Linked DNA regions of Homo sapiens: region 2 is linked to region 1. The links come from fine-mapping of genetic effects on gene expression. A gene starts in region 1. The other region holds a variant in brackets. All regions are shown on one strand. Distances are from middle to middle. Region 1 holds the start of QRICH2 (glutamine rich 2). Region 2 overlaps PRPSAP1 (phosphoribosyl pyrophosphate synthetase associated protein 1).

Region 1 (11,765 bases):
TATCAGCAGGGAATGAGTATATTGGGCAGAAAGGCTTTCATTTTAGCCTTTTTTAGCCTCCCTCCTAGCAGAGCCTAGGTTTTTCATGCGAAACTAACAGTAGTTCTTTGTGGGAGGTAGGGTTGCAAAAAAGTAAACAAATATACTGTGATGTTTTCCGCATCAAACTAGAGCTGAATTTCCATTGATATTTGATGAGAGGTATTGGCTTGCAATCTTTCTTTTTTTTTTTCTTTTTTTTTTTTTTTTTAGACGGAGTCTCACTCTGTTGCCCAGGCTGGTGTGCAGTGGTGCGATCTCAATTCACTGCAACCTTTGCCTCCTGGGTTCAAGCAAGTCTTGTTTCAGTCTCCTGAGTAGCTAGGATTACAGGCGTGTGCCACCATGCCTGGCTAATTTTTATATTTTTAGTAGAGACAGAGTTTCACCATGTTGGCCAGGCTGGTCTTGAACTCCTGACCTCAGGTGATCCGCCTGCCTTGGCCTCTCAAAGGTGGCCTGGCCAACGTGGTGAAACCCCACCTCTGCTAAAAATACAAAAAATTAGCCAGATGTGGTGGCACGTGCCTGTAATCCCAGCTACTTAGGAGGCTGAAGCAGGAGAATCGCTTGAGCCCAGGAGGCAGAGGTTGCAGTGAGCCGAGATCGTGCCACTGCACTCCAGCCTGGGAGACAGAGTGAGACTCTGTCTCAAGAAAAAAAAAAAAAAAAAAAAAAAAAAAAAGCGGATAGGTCAACATAACTGCGTGTTTACATGGTTTAATTTAAAAACAGAATCTCAGGAAGCTGCTCCTAATGTTGGTGGTTTGAAACCCCCCTCCCCCCATTTTAAGTGATTTTATATGCAAAGCCTTCTTGTCTTGCCCAAATTCAAGAAGTTGTCTTTGTTTCTAGGATGTGAAATCAGGAAATATATGTTTGTTGAAATGTATAAAGTAGTGGTGAATTTCAGCTCAACTGATTTGCCAGTATACAGAGAAAAACACCTGTTCTTTGAGATACACAGTGCCTGTTGGGAATCTGCAAAAATTGTTTGTTGGTAGTCACTAAACTCTTGTTACCCTGAATTTTATTCTCTTTCGCTTCCCCCACTACTAGCCTAATAAATATTTCAGAATAATAACAAAGTTTAAAGAAAGAATACTTAGCCTGTTCTTCTGAAGTAGTCTTTGTTTTTCTTCTCTGTTTACTAACCTCCTTTTGAGGATAAAATCTTATTTCCTTTCTTTATCCTGTAGTTTCCTTTGTACACTCATAGCCTTTCTTCAGATGCAGATTTTGCAGTCAGATAAAAGTCTCTACTTTAAGCACCAATTAAATCAGGAAAAGATGATGGGCCTGGAGTTATTGTCTTCAAGTTCCTGATTTTGAGGAAACTCTGATTATGTCAGTAGTGCAGTTATCTGATAGTAAGGTTACACTGTCCAAATAAGGTGACTTTGGAAGAAAATAACATAAAGCCATCTCATGATCTGGCAGCCTTTCGCTGTTTCGCTTTCTGCAGAGCGGCATTCCTTCTGCATGTCTCTGTCAGTCTCTGTGAGAGTGGGGTTTCTATCCACACAGCACTGCGGTGCAGCTTCTCCGTGTTGGCAGAATCTTCCATGCTCTGCTGGTTCGTTGTCTTTCCAGCTGTGCTGTGCAGTGCAATGTGCTGGCTGCTGAGCTCATGAGACACGGCCCGTCTCAACTGAGAAGTGCTGTGCGTATAAAACACACACCAAGTAGAGAAGACTTGATAGGAAAAAAGTGTAAGGCTGGGTGCGGTGGCTCATGCCTATAATCCTAGCACTTTGGGAGGCTGAGGTAGGAGGATTGTTTGCTTCCAGTTTGAAATGAGCCGGGGCAACATAGCAAGATCCCCTCTGAGAAAAAAAAGTGTAAAACATCTCATTAATTTTTATATCAGGTTGGGCGTGGTGGCTCAAGCTTGTAATCCCAGCACTTTGGGAGGCTGAGGCGGGTGGATCACCTGAGGTCAGGAGTTCGAGACCAGCCTGACCAACGTGGAGAAACCCCATCTCTACTAAAAATACAAAACTCAGCTGGGTGTGGTGGCGCATGCCTATAATCCCAGCTACTCGGGAGGCTGAGGCAGAATTGCTTGAACCTGGGAGGCGGAGGTTGCAGTGAGCCAAGATCGCGTCATTGCACTCCAGCCTGGGCAACAAGAGCAAAACTCCGTCTCAAAAAATACATACATACATACATACATACATACATTTTTATATCAGTTACATGTTGAAATTATAATATTTTGGGAATTGCATAAAATAAAATGTATTAATTTCATCTGTTTTTAATGTGGCTACTAGAAAATTCAAAGTAACATGTATGGCATGCCTTCTATTTCTTTTGGCCAATGCTGCTGTTTCTGAGAGATTGCAGGTTCATTGAGGGGGAATTTGCATGGTTTGTTTGTTTTTTGTCTGTATAGTGGTTTTGCCACCATTTCCAGGGAATTAGGTTGTGATTACATTTCTCTAGTGATACATGAATGACTGAGATCTTGTAATTTGTTTTGTTTTGCTAGTGATGATGGCCAAAGAGAAGCCACCGATAACTGTAGTTGGAGATGTTGGAGGCCGCATCGCAATCATCGTGGTATGGTTATATGTCATCCATGTGCAGAGGTGGCACTCCTGGCTCTTGGTCAGTAGGTTGTCCACTCTGGGACTGTATTTCTAGGAACGATGATCCGAATGGATCCATGTATCCTTTCTCACCCAAACTCCCTTGTGCCAAGTGGCAGAAACCTGTATCCAGGTGAACATACATTAAAGTATAACCTACAGATAGGAAATGAGCACAGTACTCCCGTGAGAAAATTCAGCACCTTCACCTTCATCATGTGGATTCTAGGTTCTTTAAACCAGCTCACCTAATCATGCTTGAGCGTTAGGGCCGAAAGATGAACTGAAGATGAGCTGTTCCGTTTTCACAAGTAAGAATGGGTGTCCCCGTGCAGACTCGTTCTGCATGTTGACATACTTTTTTTCCCAGCTCTAAATATCTGCTGGCTAGTGGGTCATGAGTCCTTTGCAGTAGCACACTTTATTTCAGTTTTCTTCTCATGTCACAGTCTATTTGAAAAAAAAATAAATGGAACGCTGGCTATGTGGGATTCACCAGAAACGTGAGACAGGAAAATGAGTGTTGGCAATCCTCAGCTCCAGCCGTAATGTCACAGGTGCTTGACTGCGCCCGCCTCTGACAGACACACAAGGTACTGTCAGGTGCTTCTGTTGCCATTTCTGGATGCTCGTTCTTTGACCCAGGCACACAGCTCTGATTTTCCATCAGAAATCCTCTGAAACTGAGTGCAGAAGAGAGTAGAGTGGTGTGTGCATTGACAGTATGGGCTAGAGGGTGTTTCTTTCCTACCAACTCACTCTGTTCTCCTCCCAGGATGACATTATTGACGATGTGGAGAGTTTTGTTGCTGCCGCGGAGATCCTGAAAGAGAGAGGCGCCTATAAGATCTATGTTATGGCCACCCACGGCATCCTGTCTGCAGAGGCCCCTCGCCTGATTGAGGAGTCCTCCGTAGACGAGGTCAGGCTGCTTCTAAATCTTGAGCCAAGATTTACTGCTGTGTTTTCTGGGAATAATAAAATGATTCAGTCAATACTAAATTGCTTAATCTGTCTATAGCTTTTCTAGCTTTTGCTGGCTAGCAGTTCGTTGGGACAGATACATGTTTAGGAATACAGATAGTCCACGACTTACCATGGTTCAACTTAGAAGTTTTTGACTTTATGATGATGCAAAACCATTGCAATTACGATGTAATGTATAGTATTCGATAAATTACTTGAGACACTTTATTTTAAAATAATCGCTTTTATTATAAAATGAAAGCCTTTGCCCTAGATGATTTTGCCACCTGCAGTCTAATGTAACTGTTCTGGGCATGTTTAAGGTAGGGCTAGGCCAAGTTAATGATGTTTAGTAGGTTAGGCGTATTAAATGCTTTTTTTTTTTTTTGAGATGGAATCTTGCTCTGTTGCCTAGGCTGGGAGTGCAGTGTGGCAATCTCGGCTCACTGCAACCTCTGCCTCCCGGGTTCAAACGATTCTCCTGTCTCAGTCTCCCAAGTAACTGGGATTACACGCGCCGGCCACCAGGCCTAATTTTTGTGTTTTTCTTAGAAACGGGGTTTCACCATGTTGGCCAGGCTGGTCTCAAACTCCTGACCTCAGGTGATCCACCTGCCTCGGCCTCCCAAAGTGCTAGGATTACAAGCATGAGCCACTGTGCCCGGCCTAAATGCATTTTCTACTTAAAATATTTTCAACTTATAATGATGCGTTTATCCAGACATAACCCTGTCATAAGTTGAGAGTTATGTTGAGGGTCTGTATATGTCTATTTGCATAACGGTTTGCTTGGGTACTTTAATTTGACACCCTAGGAGCATTTCTCTTGAGGCTGGAATTCTTCCCTTATGATCTGAGAGTTTTGCATAGCACTGGGGCTCACTGTGTTTCTGCATGGAGACCATGCCATTCCTAAGATTTTTGTCTTGTGTTCTGAGGCCATGTAACTTTTCCTTTGCATAAAATTAGTTAATTTTGGTTTATAAAAACTATACTCGGTGGAACAAGGTTTTGTAGTTTGGAACTTAGGCTGTGGGAACTCAATGTTAGATAAGCTTTTCTGTGTAACCAGCTTGGAGAACAGACTTCAGTAACAGCGTTTGTTTTCCATCACTGTGTGACTAGGTGGTGGTGACGAATACTGTCCCTCATGAGGTTCAGAAGCTGCAATGTCCCAAGATAAAGACTGTGGATATCAGTTTGATTCTTTCTGAAGCCATTCGGAGAATCCACAATGGAGAGTCCATGGCCTACCTTTTCCGAAACATCACTGTGGATGACTAGCTTTCACGAGGGTCTCGACCCTGGACCTCCTGAGGGAAACATGGAAAAAGCAGTGCCATGAGTGATACAGTGTTTCCTTGCAAGGGAGGACTCGAAACAGCCTGGAGTTAGATATCTTCTTTTGCCCGGATTGATGGGGAGGAGGGATTAAAAGAGTCAGGAAGAAGACAGAGCTAATGGATAAATATCATAACATGGCCTTACATGTCTGCTGTCATCAGCCCTGTTCCTTAAAAGTTCTAGCTGCTTTCTTAAAAATAATCTGAAAATCTTATTGATACTAAAGAGGAGTTAAAGGCACATAAAGTCTTAACTCTATAATGTTCATTTAGTTGTTTCAGCTCCAGGGAAATGGAGGTATTGATGTTGAACCTGGTTAGGGAAGCTGAGCGCCTGTGGCCCTATTACTATCCAGTTGGCCTCTCCCAAATCAACTTCAAGTCTTTTATAGAGAATCGTATTTTTCTTTCAGAAATTGTTATGCCTACAGCCATTGAAAAATGAAGCATTCATGTTGTTACATCTTCCAAGGATGTCAGATTAGAAAATAGCATCCCACCTCTGGGTATCTGAGTGGCTCTGAAGTTGCAAATAAAATAATTTGTTGTCTTGCTAGTCTTTTCATTAGACAGCAGAAGACCATGGATACAGAACAGCAGTCAGGTCTGTGGCTGGACACAAACACTTTCCCAGGTTCCACCCTCTTCCTAAGTGTTGAAGCTAAATCCTTGTTGAATACTGTATTTTAAATCTTTAAAAAAAAAAAAAAAAAGTCTAGGTGTGGTGGCTCACACCTATAATCTGAGTACTTTGGGAGGCTGAGGCAAGGAGGATTGCTTGAGCCCAGGAGTTTCAGACCAGCCTGGGAAACATGGCGAAACCCCCATGTCTACAAAAAATACAAAAATTAGCCAGGCATTGGTAGCATGTGCCTGTAGTTCCAGCTACCTTGGGAGGCTGAGGTGGGAGGATTGCCTGAGCCAAGGAGGTTGAAGCTGCAGTGAACTATGATTGTACCACTGCCATCCATCCTGGGTGACAGAGCAACACCCTGTCTCAAAAAAAAAAAACAGGCCAGGGATCGTGTCTTATGCCTGTAATCCCTGCACTTTGGGAGGCCGAGGCAGGTAGATCACCTGAGGTCAGGAGTTTGAGACCAGCCTGGCCAACATGGCAAAACCCCGTCTCTACTAAAAATACAAAAATTAGCCTAGCTAAGTTAAAAGCATAAAAAGACTACAAAGAGGCCAGGCATCATGGCTCACGCCTGTAATCCCAGCACTTTGGGAGGCCGAGGTGGGCAGATCACTTGAGGTCAGGAGTTTGAGACCAGCCTGGCCAATATGGTGAAACCCTGTCCCTACTAAAAATACAAAAATTAGCCGGGTGTTGGGGGAGGGGGTGCACGCCTGTAATCCCAGCTACTCGGGAGGCTGAGGCAGGAGAATTAATTGGTTGAACCCAAGAGGCAGAGATTGCAGTGAGCTGAGATTGTGCCACTGCACTCCAGCCCAAGTGACAGAGCAAGATTCCATCTCAAAAAAAAAAAAAGACTGCAAAGAACTAGTTATTTTGATAACCCCTTAAAGGCCTACTGTGTCCCAAGTTATTGGAATATAATGATGATCGAAAATCCTTCAATTAAATAAACAGTACCTCTCAGGCTGAAGTGAAAAATCTGAACTTGAACAGTAGTTAAAATAGTACAGTTATTCCTTACAATCCATGGGTGATTGGTTCCAGGACTCAACCTCCTGCCCATGGATGTGCAAGTCCCTGATAGAAAATGGTGTAGTATCTGCATATAAGCTATGCACATCCTGGATGACTTGTAATACCTACTGCAATATCCTGTGTAGATGGTGGTCATGCTGTATTATTTAGAGAATCATGACAGGAATCTGTACGTGTTCAGTCGTGGTTGGTTAAATCTGCAGATGCAGAGCTCACGGAGGAGGCTGGCCATGCATGGCACACATTCATAGGTTCTCTTTAAGTAGCCTTGCTGTGCTTCTGTTAGGAAGTTTTATTTATACGTTTTTGGGAAGAATCTTGTATGGGGAAGTCATGTCTCAATTGTTAACACCAGATTTGTCTCGTGCTGTTTAATCCTGCTTTGTAATGAGCTCAAGCACAGGCGCTTGACCAGGTGAGTGGTTTCTTTTCTTTTCTTTTTTTTTTTTTTTGAGACAGAGTCTTGCACTGTCGCCCAGGCTGGGGTGCAGTGGTGCGATCTTGGCTCACTGCAACCTCTGCCTCCCGGGTTGACGCGATTCTCCTGCCTCAGCCTCCCGAGTAGCTGGGATTACAGATGCGCGGTACCATGCCCGGCTAATTTTTTGTATTTTTAGCAGAGGGGTTTCACTATGTTGGCTAGGCTGGCCTTGAACCCCTTACCTCAGGTGATCCACCCGCCTCGGCCTCCCAAAGTGCTGGGATTACAGGTGTGAGCCACCAAGCCTGGCCGTTTTTTTGAGATCAATTAATTTATGGCAGGCTGGGCGCGGTGGCTTACACCTGTAATCCCAGCACTTTGGGAGGCCGAGGTGGGTCGATCACTTGAGGTCGGGAGTTCAAGACCAGCCTGGCCAACATAGTGAAACCCCGTCTCTGCTAAAAATACAAAAAATTAGCCGGGCATGGTACCACGCATCTGTAATCCCAGCTACTCGGGAGGCTGAGGCAGGAGAATCATGTCAACCCGGGAGGCAGAGGTTGCAGTGAGCCGAGATCGTGCCATTGCACTACAGCCTGGGCGACAGAGCAAGACTCCCTCTCAAAAGTAAAAAAAAAATTATGGCAGCACAGAAAAGGGACAATTAGCCACCAGTTAGTCATCTAGTGGCTAATTGGAACTGCCTGAATAGTGAGTGGGTTGTCTTTTCCAAGTTGCTTCACCTTTGATTGAACAAAATATGTGGACTGTCTGAGGGGACCAGGGCCCCAGGACTGCATCCCTTAGACATGGGGCCATAGACATGGGGCCACCACTCTGGAATGGACGCAGCTGATGACACAAAGCATGGTTGCCAGGAAACCCTCAAGTCTTTCCTTATGTGGCCCCGCCAAGAGTGAGTGAATCCTGGCCTTTCTAGGTTAAGGGGATGGATGGAGTCTAGCTGGATCTTAGGAGGCCTCCTCAGCCCGTTGCCAAGGCTCCCCTTGTGATCCTTGTGGTGGCCTTTACTTCCCCCCGCCCCCGTGGCTCGCAGGGAGGCGTGTTGTTACGTGGAATCTTCAGGGCACGCGGGGGCCCCCACGTTTCAAACGTCCGCCGGCGCGGGGACTGGGAGTCCAGGGCTCCAGCTCGGGGACCCGAGGCCAGCGACAGACAGCGGAGGGGTGGCCATCGCGGACCCCGCCGGGGAGCGGAGGCGCAGATTCCCTGGAGGCAGGAGCTCTGTCCAGTGACTCGGCCGGACCCGGGGCAGGGGCGCCCCGAGGACCTCGCAGGGCCCCCGAAAGGCCCCAAGGCGCGGCGTGCAGTGAGCGGGAAGTGGTTGGCCGGCGCCCCGCGGCGGCGCACAGCTCCTGACAGCCACGATGCCGCCCGCGACCACGGTCTCCCTCCGGGAGCTGGCGGACCTCTCCATCGGCACGCCAGAGGTGGGCGCCGTCAACTTCACGGCCCTGCACACGCTCATCGTGGCCATGCTCAAGAACCTCGACCTCCAAAATACCCGGATCGACTTCCAGCCCTCGTCGCCCGAGCCCAGCCGCTCGCTGCAGTCCGTCCGGAGCTCGTTCAGCATCCCGCACCTGCCCGCGCCCAAGGAGGTGCCCAAGGGGGCGCCCCGGGAGAAGCGCAGGGGCGTGGGCCAGGCGCCTTCGTCAGCGCTGGAGAGCCAAGTGAAGGACCTGGGCGGCCAGGTGGAGGACCTGAGCAAGCAGCTCAAGCGTGTGGACGGCCAGGTGCAGGGCATCGCCACGCACGTGCAGCACTTCTCCCAGGCCAGCGGGCTTGACCTGGCCGCGCTAGAGTGGCCGGAGGAGCAGGAGGTGGGCGTGCGGGCGTTCGATAGGGTGCGGACTGGGAGTATCATGAAGGACGCCGCCGAGGAGCTCAGCTTTGCCAGGGTGAGCACGCACACGGAGGCACGCGCAGGCCGTCTGCCTCCTCCAGGCCGCCCTCCAGGCCTAGCCGAGTCCCCACCACCCTGGAGGGGTGAGCGGTGGTGGGGACGGAGGGGATGGGGACCGAGGAGGTGCCAGACCTCAGTGCGACTGGCTAAATAGAGTGGCCCATGCTCTACCTTGCAGTCCACGGGGCTGCAAGACGTGAAAATCCTAAAAGAACGCCACCAAAAGGCCTAGGGCCTCCCCGAGCTGGAGGGGCCTGGGGACCCCACCTCCTAAGTGTAGTGGCCCCATCCCACCCCCTCCTTCCTAGCCCCTGTTTACGGGAGAGGTTCGCCCACCACTTATCAGACATCCAAGGACCCAGAGCTGGCTCAGAGTGGGGCCGGCAACTTCTCAGAAGATTCTTAGAGTGAATTCCCTTTTTAAAATGAATAAGGACATGAAGAGATACGTGTTGAGGACAAAGGCTCCCAGAGAAGGGGAGTCAGGATGGAGAGTTGGACCTCAGCTTCCTATGGCCATGACACAAGCCACAGCAGGCAGGGGACCGTTTCACTTGGACTTTTTTTTTTTTTGAGAAGGAGTCTCACTCTATCACCCAGGCTGAAATGCAGTGGTGCAGTCTCGGCTCACTGCAACTTCCGCCTCCCAGACTCAAGCGATTCTCCTGCCTCAGCCTCCCGAGTAGCTGGGATTATAGGCGCGCGCCACCCCGCCTGGCTAATATTTGTGTTTTTAGTAGAGAAGGAGTTTCACCATGTTGGCGGGGCTGGTCTCAAACTCCTGACCTCAAGTGATCTGCCCGCCTCGGCCTCCCAAAGTGCTGGGCATTACAGGCGTGAGCCACTGAGCCCTGCCTTCAACTGGACTTTTGTTTTCTTGGAGGGACAAATGCATGTAATCATTGAGTATAAGTATTGTCCAGTGAACAGCAGGAAGCAACGCAGGTCAGCGCCAGGAGGTAATAGACACGTGCATGTCTCAGAGCCACCTTAGGTTGGTTCTGAAAGAAAAAGCAGAAGCAACTAGGAAGGCAGCTGGGTGGGGAGGCCAAGAGGAGAGACAGGAGGGGAAAAAGAGGCCGGGAAGAGGCAGGAAGAAGAGGCCAAGCCCCAGCAGGGGAGCCCTGGCCGCTCATGCCCTCCTGCCATATCACCCCAGGTCTCGAGACCGCAGCACCAACTCACTTTTGCTCTGGGAAGCATGTCTGCTTTCCTTTTCAAACTTTAAAGTGTGGTGGGGGTTTTTTTTGTTTTAATTTTTTTGGGTTTTTTTTTTTTTTTTTTTTTTTTTGAGACACATTCTCACTCTGTCACCCAGGCTGGAGTGCAGTGGTGCATTGTCGGCTCACTGCAACTCCATCTCCTGGGTTCAAGGAATTCTCCTGCCTCGGCTTCCCGAGTAGCTAGGATTATAGGTGCACACCACCATGCCCAGCTAACTTTTGTACTTTTAGTAGAGATGGGGTTTTGCCGTGTTGGCCAGGCTGGTCTCGAACTCCTGACCTAAAGTGATCCTCCTGCCTCGGCTTCCCAAAGTGTTGGGATTACAGGCAAGAGCCACTGCGCCTGGCCTTTTGTTTTAATTTTTACGTAATCTTAGATTCTAGAAGTTTGCAAAAGTTATAAAAAGTAACTTGTTTTATTTTTGTTTATTAATATATTTTTTCTTAATCCCAAATATGATAGCACCTTATGTTGTAGCGATTTGCTTTGGTTCTTTTGAGGTGCTTTTCTCTTTAGATAGCACAGATGTTCAGCTACTGTTGAGGTACCTGGCACCCTTCCTTCCTTGTAAGGCAAGGTGGGCCTCATCCTACAGGCTTTCACAAGTGGGTTGGAGCAAACTGAATCCCAGGACCAAAGGGTCCCATCCCTGCAGCAGCACTTACTCCTGCCATGCTACCAGCCAGGTCCCCCACTGCATCTCACTTCCCTTCCTGCACTTGGCTGGGAAAAGACCCAGGAGCCTGGGCTGACTGGCCAGGTAAAAACCAGGTAGAAAGCAGGGGCTCCTGCCTGTAATCTCAGCACTGTGGGAGGCCGAGGCTGGAGGATTGCTCGGACCCAGGAGTTCAAGACCAGCCTGGGCAACATTGCAAGATCTTATCTCTACAAAAAAATGTTTAAAATTAGCTGGATGTGGTGGTGCATGCCTGAAGTCCCAGCTACTCAGGAGGCTGAGGTGGGAGGATCGCTTGAGCCTGAGAGGTTGAGGCTGCAGTGAGCTGTGGTGGCATCACTGCACTGCAGCTTGGGTGACAGAGCAAGACCCTGTCTCAAAAAAAAAAAAAAAAGGAAACCAAAAAAACCCAAGTAGAAGAAGAAACCCTCCCTTTCCATAAGAGCCACACAAATTCCCCCTTTCCTCGTCTCCTGGCACTGAGTCAGTGTGTGAATGTGCGTGTATGCATGTGTGTGTCTGAGTGTGAGAGTGTGTGTGCGCATCTGTGTGTGTGTGCATGTGAGTGTGCGTGTGTAGGGGCCACTGTCATTCTCCTTTCCTGAACTCTTCTTCCAGGTACTTTTACAGCGGGTTGATGAACTAGAGAAGCTATTCAAAGATCGGGAGCAATTCCTGGTAATACCAGCCAGTTCCATGGGAAAGGGCTCTCCAGGGGGCTGGCCGTCTCTCAGTGTGGCCCTCTCTCCAGGGCTTGTCCATCCAGGGCAGGCAGTGTGTGCCCTCTGCCTCTCAAGTCTCTGCCCCAGGGTTGGAGGGAAATCTGCCCCAGCCCTGCCCAGCGCTCTGCTGGGTGCTCACATGGGACAGATAACTGGCTGCCCAACCTTCACTGGTCAC
Region 2 (11,765 bases), 24 kb before region 1:
ATTCTTGGCTTTGATATCACATGGTAACCAAGAGTGCTCAATATAAGTATTTAACACGTGCAATCTAGAGTGATGCTGGGGGTAGTAAAGACTGAACTTGACAAACAAAGGATCATCAGTGTGCAAGTGTCTTCCAGGGAAGGGACAAAAGAAGCATGAAGAAATGACTTAGTTAATAGCCAATTGGGAAACACTTACCGTTTTTCTCACTTGTATCTTGAGTATTAGGAAATTGGACCATGGTCAGGTGTGGTGGCTCATGCCTTTAATCCTAGTACTTTGGGAGACCAAGGTGAGAGGATCACTTGAGGCCAGGAGTTCAAGACCAGCCTGGGCAATATACTAAGACCCTGTCTCTATTCTTTTTTTTTTTTTTTTTTTGAGACAAGGCCTTGCTCTGTCACACAGGCTGGAGTGCAGTGGCACGATCTCGGCTCACTGCAGCCTCCACCTCCCAGGCTCAAGTGATTCTCCTGTCTCAGCACCCACCGTCTTACCCTCCCAAGTAGCTGGGGCTACAGGCACATGCCACCATGCATGGCTAATTTTGTATTTTTAGTAGAGACAGGGTTTTGCCATGTTGCCCAGGCTGGTCTTGAACTCCTGAGCTCAGCTGATCTGCTTGCCCCGGCCTCCCGAGGTGCTTGGATTACATGCATGAGGCACTGTGCCCAGCTTTTATTTAAAAGAAAAAAGAAATTTTGGCCAAAGGAAGAAGTAGGAAGCACTTCATAGAGTTGTAGCAGAGTCTTGTACAATAACAATGACAATTTTACATAAGTCAACATGGAAAGGCACCTTCCCTGTTGAAAAAGGCACATAGGTATAAATGGGTACTTCTGAAAACCAGAACCCTCTCCTGAAGATGGTGAAGTTTCTTTATGTGTATTTGGTGTTGAGATAAAAGCCGCAAGTCTCTTCCCAGTGGTTCAGTTTAAGAGCATCAAAGCAAAAATATCATCACCTGGCATTTTCTCTGTCTCTTAAGCTGATAGGGATGGAAGAAGAAAGGAAAAATTTGGAAAAAAGACAGGTTGGATGTGTTGTTTTGTGTGGGTGTGCAGCCCATAAAGAAGGTTATTAGGTTTGTCACAATAAACTGGTTCTTTTTGTTGTTTTTTTGAGACGGAGGCTTGCTGTGTTGCCCAGGCTGGAGTGCAGTGGCGTGATCTCGGCTCACTGCAACCTCTGCCTCCCAGGTTCAAGCAATTCTCCTGCCTCAGCCTCCTGAGTAGCTGGGATTATAGGCGTGTGCCACCACAGCCAGCTGATTTTTGTATTTTTAGTAGAGACGGGGTTTCACAGTGTTGACCAGAATGGTCTCAAACTCCTGACCTCAGGTGATCCACCCGCCTTGGCCTCCCAAAGTGCTGAGATTATAGACGTGAGCCACCGTGCCCAGTCAATAAACTAGTTTTTGTAGTGCTTGAGTACTGGATACTTTAGTACCAACTAAAGAACACAGATAATTTAATTTAATTTAATTTTTTTTTTGAGACGAGTTTCTTTCTTGTTGCCCAGGCTGGAGTGCAGTGGTGTGACCTTGGCTCACTGCAACCTCCACTTTCCAGGTTCAAGTGATTCTCCTGCCTGAGCCTCCCGAGTAGCTGGGATTACTGGCATGTACCACCATGCCTGGCTAATTTTGTATTTTTAGTAGAGATGGGGTTTTACCATGTTGGCCAGGCTGGTTTTGAACCCCTGACCTCAGGTGATCCATCCACCTCGGCCTCCCAAAGTCCTGGGATTACAGGCATGAGCCACCATGCCTGGCCTAATTTTTTATTTTATTTTATATTTTATATTTTATTTTATTTATTTTTTGAGACGGAGTCTTGCTGTGTTGCCCAGGTTGGAGTGCAGTGGCACAATCTCGGCTTACTGCAACTTCTGCCTCCTGGGTTCAAGCAATTCTCCTGTCTCAGCTTCCTGAGTAGCTGGGATTACAGGTGCACACCACCACACCCAGCTAATTTTTGTATTTTTAGTAGAGATGGGGTTTCTCCATGTTGCCTAGGCTGGTCTCGAACTCCTGACCTTAGGTGATTCACCTGCCTCAGCCTCCCAGAATGTTAGGATTACAGGCATGAGCCACTGTGCCCGACCTGGTTTTTTAATATTATCTGCGGTTACATAGATGAAGGAATATCTTTTACAGGTTTTTCTGTTGTTGGGAGGAAGGGGGCATTGCCTAAAGTAATAAGGCTAATTTTAGGCAAACAGACCAAAGCTTAGACATTAAAATAAGCTTAGTTGCCTTCAGAGCTGTTGTTCTAAAATCACATAGATACCTTTTTTTGGTGCTGTTTTTGCTTGGAATAGCTTTGGAACTACTGCTTCCAAACTTGCAGCATATTTCTTTTGACTGTTCTAATAATAGCAACCTTTTGGTCGTTGAGGATAGGTTTAATTTTTGGAAATGGCAAAAAGCCATTCAGAACAAAATGATTATTTTGGGTAATTGAACTGTGCGATACTCAGAGATTTTCCAGATATACCAAGCAATGGAACTAAGTAAAATATGAAGCTTATGAAGTATATTTTAAAGGTTAATTTTTATGTTTATGTACAAGTTCTAGTGTGTTGATGTAAAGTAAGCAGACTCATTAAAATAACATTTACAGCTGGGCACGGTGGCTCACACCTGTAATCCCAGCACTTTGGGAGGCCGAGGCAGGTGGATCAGTTGGTCAGGAGTTTGAGACCAGACTAGCCAACATGGTGAAACCCCGTCTCTACTAAAAATACAAAAAATTAACCAGGCATGGTGGCAGGTGCCTGTAATCCCAGATATTCGGAAGGCTGAGGTGGGAGAATCGATTGAACCCGGAAGGCAGAGGTTGCAGTGAGCCAAGATGGTGCTACTGCACTCTCGCCTTCCAGCCTGGGTGACAGAGTGACTCAGTCTCAAAACAACAACAAAAAATTCCCAGCTGCTGCAGATGATTAATTGTTACAGTTGGGAGCAGGGTAAATTCTCCCCCATTACTTCCAGCTGTGGTGTGGTTTCTCTTTTTGCGAGCCTGGCTAGTTTAATGAATGCGTATACCATGCCTGTTTCCTCATCTCAGGTTAGTTTGTTGTTGTTGTTGTTGTTGTTGTTTTCCAATATGGAACACTTCACGAATTTGCGTGTCATCCTTGCACAGGGGCCATGCTAATCTTCTCTGTATCATTCCAATTTTAGTATATGTGCTGCTGAAGAGAGCACACCTCAGGTTAGTTTTTGCCTGTCCAAAATGCTAGAGCAGTAAGGGCTGGACTTAATATAGGATGTGGTTTTCTTAGGGGAAAGAAAAGTAGTTGGTTGTCTGGGCATGATGGCTCAAGCTGTACTCCCAGCACTTTGGGAGGCCAAGGCGGGAGGATTGCCTGAGCCCAGGAGTACAAGACCAGCTGGGCAACATGGTGAGACCTTTCTCTATTTAAAAAAAAGAAAGAAAAGTAGTTGGTAAAACAATTAAGAATGTCCTACTTAGAGATAAAGACTACAAGAGCTAGCCAGGGTGTACTTGCAACATTCTTAGGGAACAGATAAAGCAGAGACTGCCAGCCGATTTCCCTTCGCCCTGCTAGTTCACAAAGTAACTGCCTGGTGTCCAATTTGTCCGGTATCTCTCAGTGAATGGGTAAAGCCAATGTGACAAAGCCCCTTTTGTCACCTTTCTGACCAATAAGGGGTGAGGTATGGAGCTTTCTTTAGCGTTGGGCTGGAGGATGTTGAATCCCTTGGAAAAATGGAAAATAAAAACCTCATGGGAAATTGCTCTTTTTTTTTTTTTTTTTTTTTTTTTGAGATGGAGTTTCACTCTTGTTGCCCAGGCTGGAGTGCAATGGCATGATCTCGGCTCACCACAACCTCCACCTCCCAGGTTCAAGCTATTCTCCTGCCTCAGCCTCCTGAGTAACTGGGATTACAGGCATGCACCACCATGCCTGGCTAATTTTGTATTTTTAGTTGAGACGGGGGTTTCTCCATGTTGGTCAGGCTGGTCTCGAACTCCCGACCCAGGTAATCCACCTGCCTCGGCCTCCCAAAGTGCTGGGATTACAGGTGTGAGCCACCGTGCCTGGCCTTTTTTTTTTTTTGAGAAAGATTCTCGCTCTGTAGCCCAAGCTGGAGTGCAGTGGTATGATGTCGGCTCACTACAACCTCTGCCTCCCAGGTTCAAGCAATTCTTCTGCCTCAGCCTCCCAAGTAGCTGGGATTACAGGCACCTGCAACCATGCCCGGCTAAGTTTTGAATTTTTAGTAGAGACGGGCTTTCACCATGTTGGTTAGGCTGGTCTCTAACTCCTGACCTCAGGTGATCCACCTGTCTTGGCCTCTCGGATTACTGGCGTGAGCCACCGCGTCCGGCCCAGAAATTGCTTATTAATGAAAGGAATGTTACCCTGAAATCAAGACTTCTCAAAAATTGTTTATCTTGTTCATTAATGTTTTATTATCTGGGCCTCCCTTGTGCTGTGTTCTCCAAAACTCATGGTGTCATACACTTGTGTATTTTACTTGATTTTGTTTTTATTTTTTTGTGTGTTTTTTGAGAGATGGGGTCTCACTCTGTTGCCCAGGTTGGAGTGCAGTGGTGCAGTCACAGCTCATTATATGGGTTTGAGGGATCCTCCCACCTCAGCCTCCCGAATAGCTAGGACTACAGGTGAGCACCACCGTGCCTGGCTGATTTTTAAATTTTATTTTATTTTTAGAGACCAGGTCTTGCTATGTTGCCCAGGCTGGTATCAAACTCCTGGCTTCAAGCAATACTCCTGCCTTGGCCTCTCAAAGTGCTGGGATTACAAGCATAAACTACTGCACTTGGTCCACTTGTGTATTGTCTATGACAAAGCCAGCTAAAAACCCACTACTTGAGCCTGGGTGTGGTGGCTCACACCTGTAATCCCAACACACTTTGGGAGGCCGAGGCGGTTGGATCACCTGAGGTCAGGAGTTAAGACCAGCCTGGCCAACATGGTGAAACCCCATCTCTACTAAAAATACAAAAATTAGCTGGGCATGGTGGTGGGTGCCTGTAATCCCCGCTACTTGAGAGGCTGAGGCAGGAGAATTGCTTGAACCCAGGAGGCAGAGGTTGCAGTGAGCTGAGATCGCACCATTACACTCCAGCCTGGGTGACAAAAACGAATTTCCATCTCCAAAACAAAACAAAAAACAAAAAAAACCTCACTACTTGAACAGATAACGCTTACAGAAGCTACTAAATTAACTGACTCCAAACATATTGTGGATATTGGGTTCTGGTTTATGAAGCCACAGCCAGCCTGGGTGTGGTGGCTCATGCCTGTAATCCCAGCACTTTGGGAGGCTGAGATGGGAAGATTGCATGAACCCAGGAGTTCAAGACCAGCCATGGCAACATAGTGAGACCCTGCCTCTTACAAAACAGAAAAGAAAAGAAAAAAAATCTTTTAAACAAAAGAGTCTCTGGGAAGGGGACCACACATTCTTCCATGAGTCAGATGTGCTCCTTCTTGGGAAGAATGAGTACCTCGAGAGTGGTCCCAGATGGCCTTTGGCTTTCTCTAGAGGTGGTTTGCCTTGTTTACCTACCACAGTGCTTGCCTCAAGTTGCCCCCTAAATATGTGTTGCATGGATGATGAACTAAAATTGACTATTATGAATTCCCAACTTTCTTGAAAGTGTTTGATAATTGCTTTGATTCTACCAAAGATTATCTGACCTTTTGATGCCAGACTTGGCATTATTAATTTGGAAGTCTGAAGGAGAAAAATGCTCCAATTTATTGAGAGAAAAAATAAAAGGTAACTGGAAAACAATGGAATGGATTAGCAGTCTAAAAGGAATGTCTTAGTTGTCTTGAAGTTGAGCCCTGCATCAGTCTCCTCAGGGAGACATTTTTTGTTTTTGTTTTTGTTTTTTTTAATCATAGAATGCTTGCAATAGTTAAGAAAAATCCAAATTACAAGGGTGAAATTGGAAGTTCCAGGAATTGAACCTGGAAGTGGAAAACATTGTCAGAATAAAAGGATGTCTTTGAAATCGCTCACTCCCAAATGCACTCTGCCTTAGAGAGAAGTGTAAACATAAATTGGAAGAGACTGGAAGGAAATGGCTCGATTACCCTTCAAGCTAGAAAGCATCTCTTGCTGAGTATTTCATTCAGCCACCTATTCAGCAAACGCTAACTCTGCTGTGTGTATGGCAGGCTTTCTGCTTTGCTGTAATGAGGGCAGCATCACCTACGTGTCAGTGTAGAGCTGATAATTGTTCAAGAACTGGTACCTGAAGAACCTGCTGCCATGGGTAGGAACTGATGACGTGGGGAAGGGAAGGGAGATACAGTCCTGACCCCCACCCCCACCCCAAGACGGGGATGTTTGAGGATGCGTGGATAGTCCAGGAAGAGCAGGAGGAAGCTAATGTGAGAAGTGAATACTGAGAGAGGTCCTGGAAGGATTTCAAGGCTCTCACCCCTTTTTAAAGGAAGAGCCTGTCTGGGAATGGTGGCGCATGCCTGTAATCCCAGTGCTTTGATAGGCTGAGGCGGGAGCATCACTTGAGCCCGGGAGTT[C/T]GAGGCTGCAGTGAGCTAAGATTGTACCACTGCACTCTAGCCTGGGTGACAGGGTGAGACCATTTCTTAATAAGTGAGTGAGTGAGTAAGTGAAAGAAAGAATGAATGAATGAATGAATGAATGCAGAGTCTACATTAGGTTTGATTATCCTTGGCAAAAGCTAGCAATCCAAATTTATAATCATTGGAAATTGCCTTTCCTTCTAATATCTTCCAGATTCATATTTCATTTTTTGTCTCTCTGGGTAATCTTTGTCAGGAATTTATATGTCAGGGAAAGAAAGGTCCAGGGAGGTTTTTTTTTGTTTGTTTTGTTTTGTTTTGTTTTTTGAGACAGAGCCTCACTCTGTTGCCCAGGCTGGAGTGCAGTGGCATGATCTCGGCTCACTGCAACCTCTGCCTCCCAGGTTCAAGAGATTCTCCTGCCTCAGCCTCCCCAGTAGCTGGGACTACAGGCACGTGCCACCACACCTGGCTAATTTTTGTATTTTTAGTAGAGACAAGGTTTCACCATATTGGCTGGGCTGCGTCCAGCCTCCAGGGAGGTTTTCGAAAATTAAGTTCCAGCTGGGTATAGTGGGTCATGCCTGTAATCCCAGCACTTTGGGAGGCCGAGGTGGGCGGATCACCTAAGGTCGGGAGTTCGAGACCAGCCTGACCAACATGGAGAAACCCCGTTTCTACTAAAAATACAAAATTAGCCACGTGTGGTGGTGCACGCCTATAATCCCAGTTACTCGGGAGGATGAGCCAGGAGAATTGCCTGAACCTGGGAGGCGGAGGTTGCAGTGAACTGAGATCACACCACTGCAGTCCAGCCTGGGCGACAGAGTGAGACTTCATCTCAAAAGGTCAGGAGATGAAGACCATCCTGGCTAACATGGTGAAACCCCGTCTCTACTAAAAATACAAAAAATTAGCCGGGCGAGGTGGCGGGCGCCTGTAGTCCCAGCTACTCGGGAGGCTGAGGCAGGAGAATGGCGTGAACCTCGGGGGGCGGAGCCTGCAGTGAGCTGAGATCGCGCCACTGCACTCCAACCTGGGCGACAGCGAGACTCCGTCTCAAAAAAAAAAAAAAAAAATTATATTCCAAGACCTCCCCACACTCAATGGAAAGAGACCAAATCTTTCTGTTAATGGCAGCTAAATGGAAGGGCAGTTGGGTTTCCCTTGGCATTCAAGCTGGCCTAAGCCCAAATCCCTGGGAGGCTGCCAGCAGGTGTTGGGTAACTCTGGTCACCAGCAGTTGCTTCAGATGTCACTGCAGTAACGGGGTATGACACAGGAGACCCAGGCAAATGTGAGGGTGGGTTAACTGTGCTGTGAATAGGAGTAACCTCAGATGAAAGCTAGGGCTTACTCAGCTACAAAAAGTCAGAAAGCTTCCCCTGCCTTCATGAGGTGCCATTGTAAGCTAGTGTGATGGTAAAATTCCCACAACACCCATCTGGGCAGCCCATGTTAAGTTGATAAAGTCAAGATCTTTTCTAGGGTTGATACATGGAATTAATCCCCAAATACAAACTTTGACTGTTTCAGAGATGTGAATACAGCTGTGATGGAGTTGCTCATCATGGCTTACGCACTGAAGACTGCCTGTGCCAGGAACATTATTGGGGTCATCCCCTACTTCCCCTACAGCAAGCAGAGCAAGATGAGGAAGAGGGGTTCCATTGTGTGCAAGCTGCTAGCATCCATGCTGGCGAAAGCAGGTGAGTGTGCGCGGGGGCCCTGGGGTTCCAGCATGATCCTTTAGGGCTCTTTCCTAGTTGGACTTAGCTCATACCTCAGATATCCAATCTGGGATCTGAGTGTTTGTTTCCTTTTGAACAGTTTTGGCTAAGGATATGTGAGCTCGGTTAGAAATTCTTTTTTTTCCCTTATTCGCTTTGTCCTACTTTAGAATACCATTGCTTTAGTGTCTTCTCTTCTCTGTCATCTGTCACATATTTTCTATTTCATCTTGTCATCGCTAAATTCTTAGCTGGCAGTCTTGGCATTCTTATGTGATCTTTTGATCTTCAGGTCTAGATTTCTATATCTGCTTTGTTAGCTAAATTCCATTTTTGTTCATAGTATTCAAGCTGGATTTTCTTTTACTCCCTCTCCCCCACCCTTGCCTTTCTACATAGTGGCTCATTTTCATTGCTTTATTCTCCTTGTGTGGCGGGGGCACGCTTTCTGGCCTGTAAATCAATGTAATATTTTACAATTGGGTTTCTATTCATCTGATGTCTGTTCTAAAACTTTAACGTATATTTGGGTCCTCGGAAAGAAATGTATGGTCCTCCCTCAATGTCCTTATAGGATTGGTTCCAGGAACCCATCTCCCGCTTCCCCGGCTCCTCAGCAGATACAAAAACCCAAAGATACTCAAGTCTTCCATATAAAATGCCATAGTATTTGCATATAACCAACACAGTCATCTGTAGATTATTTATAAATACCTAATACCATATAAACACTATATAAATTGTTGTTATGCTGTCTTGTTTAGGGAATAATGATGAGAAAAAAGTTTCATACCTGCTCAGTACAGACACAACCATTGTAGGCCTAACTACCTTTTCAGTCTGTGTTTCGTTGAATCCACACGTGGAACCCATAGATCCAGATGGTCAACTGTATGTGAATTTCATCCTCTCCAAAAAACTATAGTGTTTCTGGAAAGAACAAGTAATACTGGTTCTACACCCTGGAAGTTTTGCTGTGACCTTTGACCATTTGCAATGTGTTTATATATATGTACCTTTTCCTCTTCAGTACTCTTGATTATAAGAGTATCTCTTCATTGTTTTTCTATAAGAATACTTGAAACATTCTTTGTTACATACAGAAATTATTCTAAGCTTCAATATCTTTGTGTTATATGAGTTTCTTTTCTTCTAATATGTATATTACTTTGCGTTTGTGTTCTTGCTACTTTTTGCCTTCGCTACAGTTCTTTATCCTTTCTTTTAAGATTCTGTAATCAAGGCCTTACTGTTTTTTCCATCTCTTCGGTATTAATTCCATATTCATATTTTTGCTTCTGCCACATTATTCTTTTCTCAATTTTCTGGACCAAGCCAAAAGTCAATAATTCCCACTTTCTTAGCTTTAGTTCTTTGTCCATGTGGAAGGTTGTAGCCTTCTCTACATTAAGGCTTTATTAAGGTTAACAATCAAGCCTGTGACTGCAGTGCTTAATCACAGTACCCCGTCTTCAGTCTGCTGGTAGGAAGCAGGAGTTGAGCATCTAGTTTAGGTCCACTGTAGCCATTTACCTGTAGGGGTGAACTTTGTAATTTTTTGTTTTAAAATTTCAGGTTTAACTCACATTATCACTATGGATCTTCATCAAAAGGAAATACAAGGCTTTTTCAGCTTTCCTGTGGACAACCTTAGAGCCTCACCTTTCCTGCTTCAGTATATCCAGGAAGAAGTGAGGAACCACCAGCAAACACCCCATTGTCCTCAAAAGAGATCTTATTTAGTTTTTCTCTGGTATCAGATTTCGTTACTGGAAGGCACATCAAATGAGCTCTCCCTTAAGTCACAATGCCTGAGGCAGCAGACAGGGTCAGCTTTAGTCGTGGACGATCATAGCTTTAAAAGACACTAAAAACAGATTTTTTTTCTACGTATCTTTAGCAATTTGCTTATGTTTTCTAAAATGAATGTTTTAAGAATTATTTTTAAAAAATTCTTGACGTAGGAGTGCTTTTTCCAGTGATGTTAATTGATAAATATTGAAAAATCTAAAACTTGTGACTAAAATTCTAGCATATTTGATGACTAGTTTGGATCATTATAAGAGGGAAAACTTGAATACCAGCATCCAGGTGTTATTTTCTGATAACTTTTCAGTATTTTCTATTTTTCCTTCAAATCTAGATTCCAAATTACAGAAATGCAGTCATTGTAGCTAAGTCTCCTGATGCTGCAAAGAGGTAAGTAAGCTAGACATGGGTCCTGATCCCTCCTGAGTGCTCCCGAAGTCAGAATGAGCTGCTTTGGAATCCAGAGGCTGTCACTCGTGGCCTTTGAAAGCCCACTGGCTCTCATGTTAACCCCTCCATCGTTGTCATGTCCCATGCCACACACAGCTTTATCTCCAGCCTCCAGACAGCACACATGATCGCTGAGTTGCTCAGCTTTCCTCTGGGAAAACAAAGTTCCTTCAAGTTCTCAGAGAAAGGAAAGCAATGAGGCTATGAGCATTTTTCAAGCAATGGTTTTTTTTTTTGTTTTTTTTTTGAAATGGAGTTTCATTCTGTCACCTAGGCTGGAGTGCAATGGCGCGATCTCGGCTCACTGCAACCTCCGCCTCCTGGGTTCAAGCAGCTCTCCTGCCTCAGCCTCCCCAGTAGCTGGGATTACAGGCGCCTGTCACCACTCCTGGCTAGTTTTTTGTATTTTTAGTAGAGATGGGGTTTCACCATGTTCATCAGACTAGTCTTGAACTCCTGACCTCAAGTGATCTGTCTGCCTTGGTCTCCCAAAGTGCTGGGTTTACAGGCGTAAGCCACTGTGCCCGGCCCAGGCAATGGTTTTTAACGTTGTTCTTTCTTCTGAAGATGACTATCAGAATATTGGACAAAGGATAGAATCAAAATTATCTAGAATCAGGGCCAGGCGGGGTGGCTCACGCCTGTAATTCCAGCACTTTGGGAGGCCAAAGCGGGAGATCGCTTGAGCCCAGGGGTTCAAGACCAGCCTGGGCAACATAGACCCCGTCTCTACAAAATACAAAAAATAGCCAGTTGTGGCAACACATGCCTGTGGTCCCCGCTACTCGGGAGGTTGAGGTGGGAGGATCACCTGAGCCTCAGGAGGTTGAGGCTGCAGTGAGCCATGTTGACGCCACTGCACTCCAGCCTGGGTGACAGTGAGACCTTGTCTCAAAAAAAAAAAAAAATGTCTAGAATCAGATACAATCCCAAACCCTAACTCACGTGCCCTTTGAGTCATTTACATGCTGGCCTGGGCCTCACATTCTCATTTATATAAATAATGCCTTTGTATGTCCCTGAAACGTTAAATATTTTCATTTTATGGTTAAAAAATGATGCCGTAGTGATGCGTGGGATTTCTTCCTGTCAGTTTCACCATTTCCCTTTGTCCTTCTAGGGCCCAGTCCTATGCGGAGAGACTGCGTCTGGGTTTGGCCGTCATTCACGGGGAAGCTCAGTGCACGGAACTGGACATGGACGATGGTCGTCACTCCCCGC

Evidence for each region. PIP is the estimated chance that this variant, and not a neighbour inherited with it, causes the effect.
Region 2: its variant is the best candidate, but not a certain one, in a credible set for the expression of QRICH2 in thyroid (GTEx, PIP 0.65).

The regions. Positions count from the first base shown.
Region 1 is chr17:76,304,660-76,316,424 of GRCh38, reverse strand. QRICH2 (glutamine rich 2) reads left to right here and starts at 8,149. Exons shown (of 19, transcript NM_001388453.1): 1 at 8,149-8,960; 2 at 11,484-11,543. The coding sequence starts at 8,427. It overlaps PRPSAP1 (phosphoribosyl pyrophosphate synthetase associated protein 1), which reads left to right. Exons shown (of 10, transcript NM_002766.3): 8 at 2,534-2,604; 9 at 3,409-3,555; 10 at 4,725-6,947. The coding sequence ends at 4,883.
Region 2 is chr17:76,328,762-76,340,526 of GRCh38, reverse strand. PRPSAP1 (phosphoribosyl pyrophosphate synthetase associated protein 1) reads left to right here. Exons shown (of 10, transcript NM_002766.3): 4 at 8,092-8,264; 5 at 9,861-9,976; 6 at 10,429-10,484; 7 at 11,665-11,765. It also overlaps the pseudogene RNU6-24P. Among named protein-coding and RNA genes, the nearest start is that of PRPSAP1, 19 kb to the left of the region's middle. The variant C/T (reference allele first, on the strand shown) is at 6,553.